Linked DNA regions of Homo sapiens: all the other regions are linked to region 1. The links come from fine-mapping of genetic effects on gene expression. A gene starts in region 1. Each other region holds a variant in brackets. All regions are shown on one strand. Distances are between the middles of the regions.

Region 1 (2,753 bases):
GCTGCAGAAAGTGGACAGCGGGTTTCACACCCAGCCCTGCTGCACACGCTCCAGCTTCCTGGAGACCCGAGCCAGGTTTCTCCCAGCAGCACCTCTCCATCCCAGAGATGGCACCATATTCAAACTGAGGTACCAGTGGCACTGACCCCCAACAACAGAGAGGACCCAGCTTCACACTTGATCCAGCAGGGGCCCAACCACATGGTGAGATGACTTCCTCCGTGAGAGAATTCCTGGGGTCCCTCACCTCCTTCAGGCACAGCTGGCTATAAAGAAAAGGGGTGAAAGGCCCAGTACATCTCCCTGAGTCCTTTCTCCTGGGCCAGGTGGCTCAGGTGCTGCGGGATCACCCAGGGAAGGCTCATTCCTCTCGCTACAAGACGCTGACTGCGGATCAGGTGGGGAGCACGGTGGATGGTCTTCTTGTATCCTCTATCGCCTCCAGGGCATCTTGTTTCTAAACTCCCAGGGAGTCCCCTCATCTTCTACTCCACTACTCCACCAAAAAAAGGAAAATCTAAACCCTCCCTCCCCTTAAAACACATTCCGTCTCAGGAATTTAATTTCAGTGTACGTTTCTTAGAGCTAAAACTTTTTTTAAGGGGAAAAGAAATGGGCAGGGCAGTGCTGGGTGTAAGGCGACCACGCGACCGAGAAAAGGAAGAGGGAGGAATGAATAAACGCTGACACCAGCCCCCCTTGGAGCTCAGAGCCTGGGGCACAGGAGCCGGCGGGGCGGGCGAGCAGGGGCGGGGACAGCGCATTCCCAACTTTCCCTGGCCGAGCTGACGGGAGATACAGCTCCCAGGGGACCGGGAGGGACCAAAAAAGGCTGAGCCGACCTGTGACATCGGCGGGGGGCAGGAAGCGAAGCTCCCCTCCCCCTGAAAGGCGCTCGGCTCCCAGCAGGCGCCCCCGCCTGCCGTCGCCGCCCAGCCTGCGCCCCCAGGCCCGGGCACTGCGGGGAGGGGCGCCCACACAAAAGGGGGAGCGGCGGGAGAGGGGACTCGGGCGAAGCCGGCTCCGGGAGGCCTCGTCTCCCTTCCCTGCGGCGCTGGCCCGCGCCCCCCGGTCTAATCGCGCGCCCCGCTCCCGGCCCCCCAGATGCCCGCACGCCCCCCGCGCCCGGGGCCCGGGATGAGGTGGGGGCTCGGGAAGGAAGGGCGGGCGGGGACCTGCCGCACGCGGAGCTCCCGGGGAGCCGCGCCGACAGCCCCGGGAATCAAACTCGCGACGGCCCGGCCCTCCCGGCGGCGCCTGGGCAACGGGTCCCGAGAAGGTGGGGCCGCTGGGCCGGGGCCGCGGCCGGGATTGCGCGCGGGGCGCCGGCGAGGACCGCGCCCGGGGCCGGGCGGGAGCCGCGGGAGCGCGGGGGTCTTACCGGGCAGCGCCACGCGCGTCCGCTCCGCGCGGGCCGCAGGGGCCGGGCCGCGGGCCGGGCGGGGGAGGGGCTGCAATCCGCAGCGGTGGCGGCGGGGCCAGGCTCGGCGGCGGCGGCGCGGCTGGGGCGCGGGGAGGCGGAGAAAGTGAGGCGAGGCCGGCTTCCTAGCGGCGGGCGGCGAGAAATGCAGCTGTCCCTGCGCGGCTGCCGGCAGGGCCACAAGTGGGGCCGCGCGGGGAGGAGCGGGGCTGCGGGCGGGGCGGGGCGGGGGCCCGGCTGCGGCGCCCCCGGGCCCTTTCCCTATGGCCGACCCCTTTCCAGAGAGGAGGGAAGCGGACCTGGGGGTCCGGAAACCTACATGGTTGCCGGGGGTGGAGAGGGGAGCACCCAGTGAAGGCTGGAAAAATGCCCTCCGTGTACCTCCCTCCCCGGCCGCAGTGACTCCCTAGCTTGCGGGCAGGAGGGCGTGAGCGGGGTGCCTCGACCTCCCGCGCAGAGCGGGGTGCGGGGCATCCTGCCCCTCCCAGCTGCGGAGAGGGTGGGCGGAGGAGACCTGAGACCTCCGAGACTCCGCGGGGAGCTAAGAGCAGGGCTGCCCGACAGGTTCCAGGTCAGTGCCAGGAACCCAGGGTGAGGACGCACAGCTGGGGCTTGGGACACAGGTGTGGAGGAGGGGCACCTCCCTGGAATTAGGGCCCCGGAAAGGAAACCAAATCAAATGCTGAGGACACAGGAGATGGTGGGAAGGGGGAGCAAATCAAAGCTATCACTCGTCCACACCGACAGATACCACCTGCCATCTCCCATTTTCTCCTCCCCCAACCTCCCCAGCATCCCTGATCACTTCAAGGGCTGCTGAGCCCTGGGAAGATTTTCCACGGAAGAACTTGTTTAATAAATGGGAAACTGACCTTTGCTATACTTTTCCCACGTGCTTTCATTTCAGACTCCAATTTGGGAGTAGGTAGCCTAGGTCAGGTGGTGACCACCAAGCACCCTGCTACCTAGGGGATCTGAGGAGGGTGAAGAAGGCCAGATGCAAACTAAGCTCTGTCCCCAAACAACTTGCAAAGGGTCTGCACCCTCCTCCTGGAAAAGTCTGCCTTACAGACCCATTTGCCCATCTGGGCCCAGAACCCCAGGAATAGCCCCCCTCTCCCCTCCTCTGAGCGCTTGCAATTTGCTAGCCTTGCTGAGACAGATCGACACGCTCAGCCTCAGAGACAGCTGATGGTAAAAACCACAAACCAAAGTGCCCCAGACACCAATGTGTTTCCATCATTTGCATGTCAAGGGCAAGTTTCTTCAGCAAGGTGGGAAACTGGGAGGGGGAGAAACCTCAGAACCACACCCTCCTCGGGGAGGCCCAACG
Region 2 (2,753 bases), 38 kb before region 1:
TAGGACCTCGGGGACTTAAGGCAGGGTTGCTGCTACCCCCGGCTGTTTGGGCCAACACTTGAGCTCCGGCCTGGAACAGAAGGCTCCCTAATAGGTTGTTAAGAGCCTGGGAAGGCGGAACAAGCTGGGCGGGGAGGAGGGGGCCTCAGGGGGCTGTTATGATAAGCAAGAGCTCAGTCTAAAGACATGCTCCCAAGCTGAAGGTTTCATTTCCTGCCAGGCAACTCACCCGTTTGAATCAAACACAGAATTTAGTATTCACCATAGAACAATCATATGACAAAAACTTTGCAGAGTTTACCCAGATGTAGGTTTTCCTTAAGGTAAAAGAGGAGTCATATTACCGAAGCCTCATCTTCTCACGAGTTCAAAACCTCTCCAACCTCTCAGGAGAAACCAAGGGCCGGAAAGGTTAAAGGCCTCACCCTCAAGGTCCCACCAAAGAATCGAAGCTGGTGCCAGCTCTCCGACTCCTACCCAGCAACCCGCCCCAGGTGGCCAGCAGCTGCCTCTGAGAATGCAGAAGGCCGAGGGGGGCTGAGAGTGTTTCTAAATCACAGCACACTTGCTCCATCCCGATGGCCTTGTGATGCCTGAGGCATGAGGGCAGGCCAGGACAGGAGCCATGCAGCGGGGTCTCCCACCCCAGGCCCTCCAGGCCCCCAAAAGGCTTCCTGTCAGGCCCTGCACTGCCCCCTCCTCCCACTTTGATCCCAGAGAGGGGAGGGGGTGGAGAGTCCAGAGAAGTCCCCACTTGGCATCGATTTGCCCAAAGCAAAGGCAACACAAAGGCTGCACCTGTTTCCATGGAGATGCGACGGGGAAGCAAAGGAACAAAACAGGGAGAAACACAAACCCGTCACCACCTCCCAGGCCAGTGTGATCGATGCTGGCAGACCAGAGCCCTGACAGGAAGACAGCGGAAGGATGAAAGGTAATCAGTGGATCTAGAAGCCACACTGGGAGCCCTTTCAGGCCACAGAGAGGAGGCCAGCAGCCTCGCCCACCCCCAGGCTCACAAACTCGCCTGGGCCCCGCTCTCGAGAACCAGTCCAAGCAAAAACTCCCAGACGGAAATCCACAGTGAGCACTTACTTTACAAAAGGATTCCTTGCTTGACTAAGGGATTCCTTCAAGCAGCAAAATCCCACCTGGAGTGCACTGTCTGTTTTATTTCATTATTCACTTCTCTGAGCAGGAGGAGGAGGGGGTCAAGGGAGTAACTTCCAGGGGAAAGTTTGTGAGAAGAGATGAGGGGATGGAGGGGTGGGGACTGGACTCTGTTCATAAAACATCTCCTAGGAGAGGCCCACAAGAAAATGGAGACGTGGTGACTTTAGAAGAGAAAGGTGAGCAGGCTAAGCGCCTGAGGCCC[A/G]TCCAATAGGGAGGACATGGGAACCTGAACAGTGGAGAAGAATGGGCGGCAACAGGTGTCCCACTAGGTCCCTGAGGTTGCCACAGGTCCCATCAGGGCACACAGGTGCTCTCAAAACCACTGGGCTATGGGGAAATGTGGGGGCAGCCTCATCTCCCCCAGGGCAACAAGGCCAGTGGCTTGATGCCTCCCCGGGTGAATGTTGGAGGAAGATGACAACAAGAGGCCCAGCAGATGGCAGCGGCTCAGAGGCTGTCATAAGGGCCTCTTGACTGGCACTCATTGTTCATCAGGTGACACATACTAAGTGCCACTTAGCACATGTGGTCATCCTGGGACGAAGGGGCAAGGCCATGCACCAACACAATCCTGCCCTTGGAGAGTCTCAACCAGGCCTTCACTCCACGGAGTCTCTTCCTGACTATAATTCTTACAGGGAACAAAAACCAAGGATAACAATAATACTTACTGAGCATGCCATGTGGGCCTGACACTAACACTTGTCTCATTGATCCTCTCAACCATCCCATGAGAGAGAGGCCTTTCTTCTCCCCATTGACTGATGTGGAGACAGGCACAGAGAGGTAAATAACTCACCCAAGGTCACACAGCGAGTAAGTGGCAAAGCTAGGATTCAAAAATAGGTCTGCCCAACTTCAGAGCCTGTGAACAGCAGGCTCAACACCTGCCACATCAGCCTCATTTAACAGGCAGAGACACTGAGGCTGAGAGAATGCAGGTGACGTGCACTGAGGCAGGGGCAGAGGCTGAACTCTGAAGACTACTCCTCCTGACCCACCCCAAGGCTTTTTTGCCTTGTGATGCCTCCACTAGGAATGCCAGCTGGCTTTTTTGGTGGGGTACATGGACTGCTCTGTGTAGTCACTCTCCTGTTCTGGACCTCAGTTTACCCCCTCAACAAGGTGGCATCGTTAGAGTGTGAGCCCCTGCTGTCTCACTGAGAGGAGCTGAGAAGAAACATGGGGCGTGCATTCAAGGTGTTACCAGGGAGCTGGTGGGAGAAGCAGTCTCAGTCTCAAAGATCCACAAGCTCTGTAATGTCCACAGAGCAAAATCCTAGGTAGGATATCCAGGCTGCTACTCAACAGTCTTCCCACCAGAGTACATGTGCAAAACCCTCAGGGAACCTGGGGACTTCCCAGAAGTATTCAGACATGGATGGCTTCCAGGGAATCAACTTCTGAAAGCTCCACTTCCTGTGCTTCTTCCTAAAACTGATCAGCCGGGAACCCTCTGGGTCTGCCAGTTCTCCCCTCACCAAGGCCCTCCTAAACACTTCCCAAAAGAAAGGCCTACCCCCAGTCATCCCAACCTCACCCTGGTATCCCGCCCTGGGTTATAAAAGCCACCAAAGAGA
Region 3 (2,753 bases), 89 kb before region 1:
AGGAGCCAAGGGAGGGCAGCTTCAGGAGAGATCAGGGGAGTGCGTGTGGAAGAGCACCATAAGAATGCAGAAGATGCTAAGGCCCTGAGCTGCTGGGTGACCTCCGAGTCAATCCGAGTGATGGGAGGGGCTGTCAGCCTGCAGTGGATGAAGGAGGATGGCAGGGAAGACTCAAGGACCCTTGGTGTTTAAGGGGAGGAGGAGGAGGATGTCAACTTGCAGAAGGAGCTGGAAGGGGACAAGCTGGAAGTCCTAGGACAGAAATAAATGATGAGGTGCAGGTACGGTGGCTCACACCTGTAATCCTAGCACTTTGGGAGGTCCAGGCGGGCAGGTCACCTGGGGTCAGATGTTCGAAACCAGCCTGGCCACATGGCAAAAATCCATCTCTACTAAAAATACAAAAACAAATTAGCCAGGCAAGATAGTGGGTGCCTATAATCCCAGCTACTCGGGAGGCTGAGGCAGGAGAATCGCTTGAACCTGAGAGGTGAAGGTTGCAATGAGCCAAGATTGTGCCACTGCACTCCAGCCTGGGCAACAGAGCGAGACTCTGTCTCAAAATGAATGAATGAATGAATGAATGAATGAATGATGAGCAAGTTTCTGATGTAGGGGTGGTTTGGACAGGACCCGTTCTCCCTGGGGACCAGTAGGAAGGAGAAGGGCGTGGAGATAGTAGCAGCGTGGGGTGACAGTGGAGGCGATTCCCCGGCAGGCTCTATCTGGGCATTCCAGGACAGTGGGAAGTGGGCCGCGGCTTTGTGTTTGAGGAAAGCCTGAGGGGAATAGAAGGGGCTGCAGTGCCTGGTGGGAGATGTGGTAGGGAGTCAGGTGGAGTGGGTGTGGGGGCCAGCTGCCCAGGCAGAGAGGAGAGGGCACTTGTATTTACTTGTTCCCGGTTTCCCTCCATTGTGACTATCCTGAGGCAAGTGAGTATTTCTCCATCGTCTGACACAGGGCCATACCTGCCACACCATCAACTCAAGAAAGCCTTGTAGATGCTGCCCACTGGGACCAAACAAGTGGCTGGGGAAGGCCGGGCAGCTTCCCCTCTCCCATGGTAAACGGGGGCTGGAAAAGGGACAGCTGTCTTGGCCAACTCCTGGAGGAGGCCTTGGTATTTTCTTTTTCTCCCCAAGAGGGTGCACAGGAAGCGAGGAGGAGAAATGGCTTGGAGCCCTGGGGCTTCAGCCAGAAACCGCTGCCTCAGGAGGGTTTCCTCATCCTGGTGTGGCAGATCCCAGCCCACCCAACCCAAGCAGGGGGCTGGAGAGAGTTGTGTGTGTGCACAGCC[G/A]GGTTGAGACCACCTCAGTTTTTCTTTTTCTTTTTTTTTTTTTTTTGAGATGAAGTTTCACTCTTGTCGCCCAGGCTGGTGTGCAATGGCGCGATCTCAGCTCACTGCCACCTCCGCCTCCCAGATTCAAGTGATTCTCCTGCCTCAGCCTCCCAAGTAGCTGGGATTACAGGCGCTTGCCACCACGCCAGGCTAATTTTTGTATTTTTAGCAGAGACAGGGTTTCACCATGTTGGCCAGGCTGGTCTCGAACTCCTGACCTCAGCTGATCCACCCACCTTGGCCTCCCAAAGTGCTGGGATTACAGGCATGGGACACCGTGCCCAGCCAGTTTTTCTTAAATCATCCTCTCAGTGTGCTACGTGTGTCCTGGACTGTCTTCTCAACTGGACTGTAAACTCTTCAAGGTCAAAGCTGATTTTGTTTTCCTGTTCTCAGCATCTGTCATAGGCAGGTGTGCTCATCTTTTGTCAAATGAATAAATAACCAAAAAAGACATGCAATGAACTAGTTCCCACGCCCGTGTCCCTGCCGCAACTATGAGGGAAGACACGTGGGGCCTGTGCTACCCAGTTGCCTGAGCCCAGCGCCTCTGGACACCTGGGAGGACATGTGGGGTGCATAGTGTGGGGGGCCCTGGCCTTGGGCAGTCCCTGGGTTGCTATGGCTCCAGGCCTTACCTCTTACTGTCCTTCTCGCAGGCCTTCCTCCACCTTGGGTGCCTCCTGACGCCTGCCCCGGAAGTCTTCATCTGAAAAGGAGAGGGAAGCTGCCTCATCCTCTACCCTGCAGGGCCTCGCTCAGGCACGGCCCCTAGACTGGGCAAGAGAGCTGACCCGACTCTCTCTGCCCCCTTCATTTGGGACCCATGCAGATCCCCCCAGGTAGACGATGCATGGGTCCAGGGAGAGAGGCAGCAGGACACTCAGGTGCTGGCCAGGGTCCACCACTGAGCTCTGAGACCTTGGACAAGTTCTCCCCTCGTCTTTGGGCCTCAAATTTCCTCATCTATAAAATGGGATGGAAAAGCTGGACTATCTAGATGACCTCTGAGGCCCTTCCAGTCCTTGTTTCTGGATGCCTCCTGACCCTCGAATGTGGCATGAGGATCAGGGTTCAGCTGCGGGCCCAGGAGGGTCTGAGGCAGAGTCTTCTGGCCCACGTGGCCTTTGGAAGGGACTGGGTGAAAGTTGAGAAGCCTCTGGGCCCACAGACTGAAGCTGCCCAGTGCTTGGTTCTCAGGCCGAGGGTCCCCCATGGGGGCAGGCCTGTCTGCCACCTCACACCCAAAAGAATATTCCCCAGAAACAGTACCTGGCACTTCATGCTACAGGTACACATCTAGGTGGAAGTAGGGCTAGGGCCCCTTTTCAGGGGTTGCAGAAAGGGGGAAGCAATGTCGACCAAGTCAGGGGGATCCATATCTTTGGGTCACCTGCCCACCAACCCTCAGTGT

Evidence for each region. PIP is the estimated chance that this variant, and not a neighbour inherited with it, causes the effect. A credible set is the group of variants that fine-mapping cannot tell apart.
Region 2: its variant is the best candidate, but not a certain one, in a credible set for the expression of CUEDC1 in whole blood (TOPMed, PIP 0.64).
Region 3: its variant is the best candidate, but not a certain one, in a credible set for the expression of CUEDC1 in whole blood (TOPMed, PIP 0.51).

Annotation. Positions count from the first base shown.
Region 1 is chr17:57,953,844-57,956,596 of GRCh38, forward strand. It overlaps CUEDC1 (CUE domain containing 1), which reads right to left and starts at 1,569. Exons shown (of 11, transcript NM_001271875.2): 1 at 1,382-1,569. RefSeq lists a silencer at 1,424-1,493.
Region 2 is chr17:57,915,691-57,918,443 of GRCh38, forward strand. All of the region lies in intron 1 of CUEDC1 (CUE domain containing 1), which reads right to left. CUEDC1-AS1 (CUEDC1 antisense RNA 1) reads left to right here. Exons shown (of 2, transcript XR_001752948.2): 2 at 1-626. Among named protein-coding and RNA genes, the nearest start is that of CUEDC1-AS1, 4.9 kb to the left of the region's middle. The variant A/G (reference allele first, on the strand shown) is at 1,376.
Region 3 is chr17:57,864,497-57,867,249 of GRCh38, forward strand. CUEDC1 (CUE domain containing 1) reads right to left here. Exons shown (of 11, transcript NM_001271875.2): 10 at 1,978-2,048. The coding sequence ends at 1,981. Among named protein-coding and RNA genes, the nearest start is that of MRPS23, 16 kb to the left of the region's middle. The variant G/A (reference allele first, on the strand shown) is at 1,298.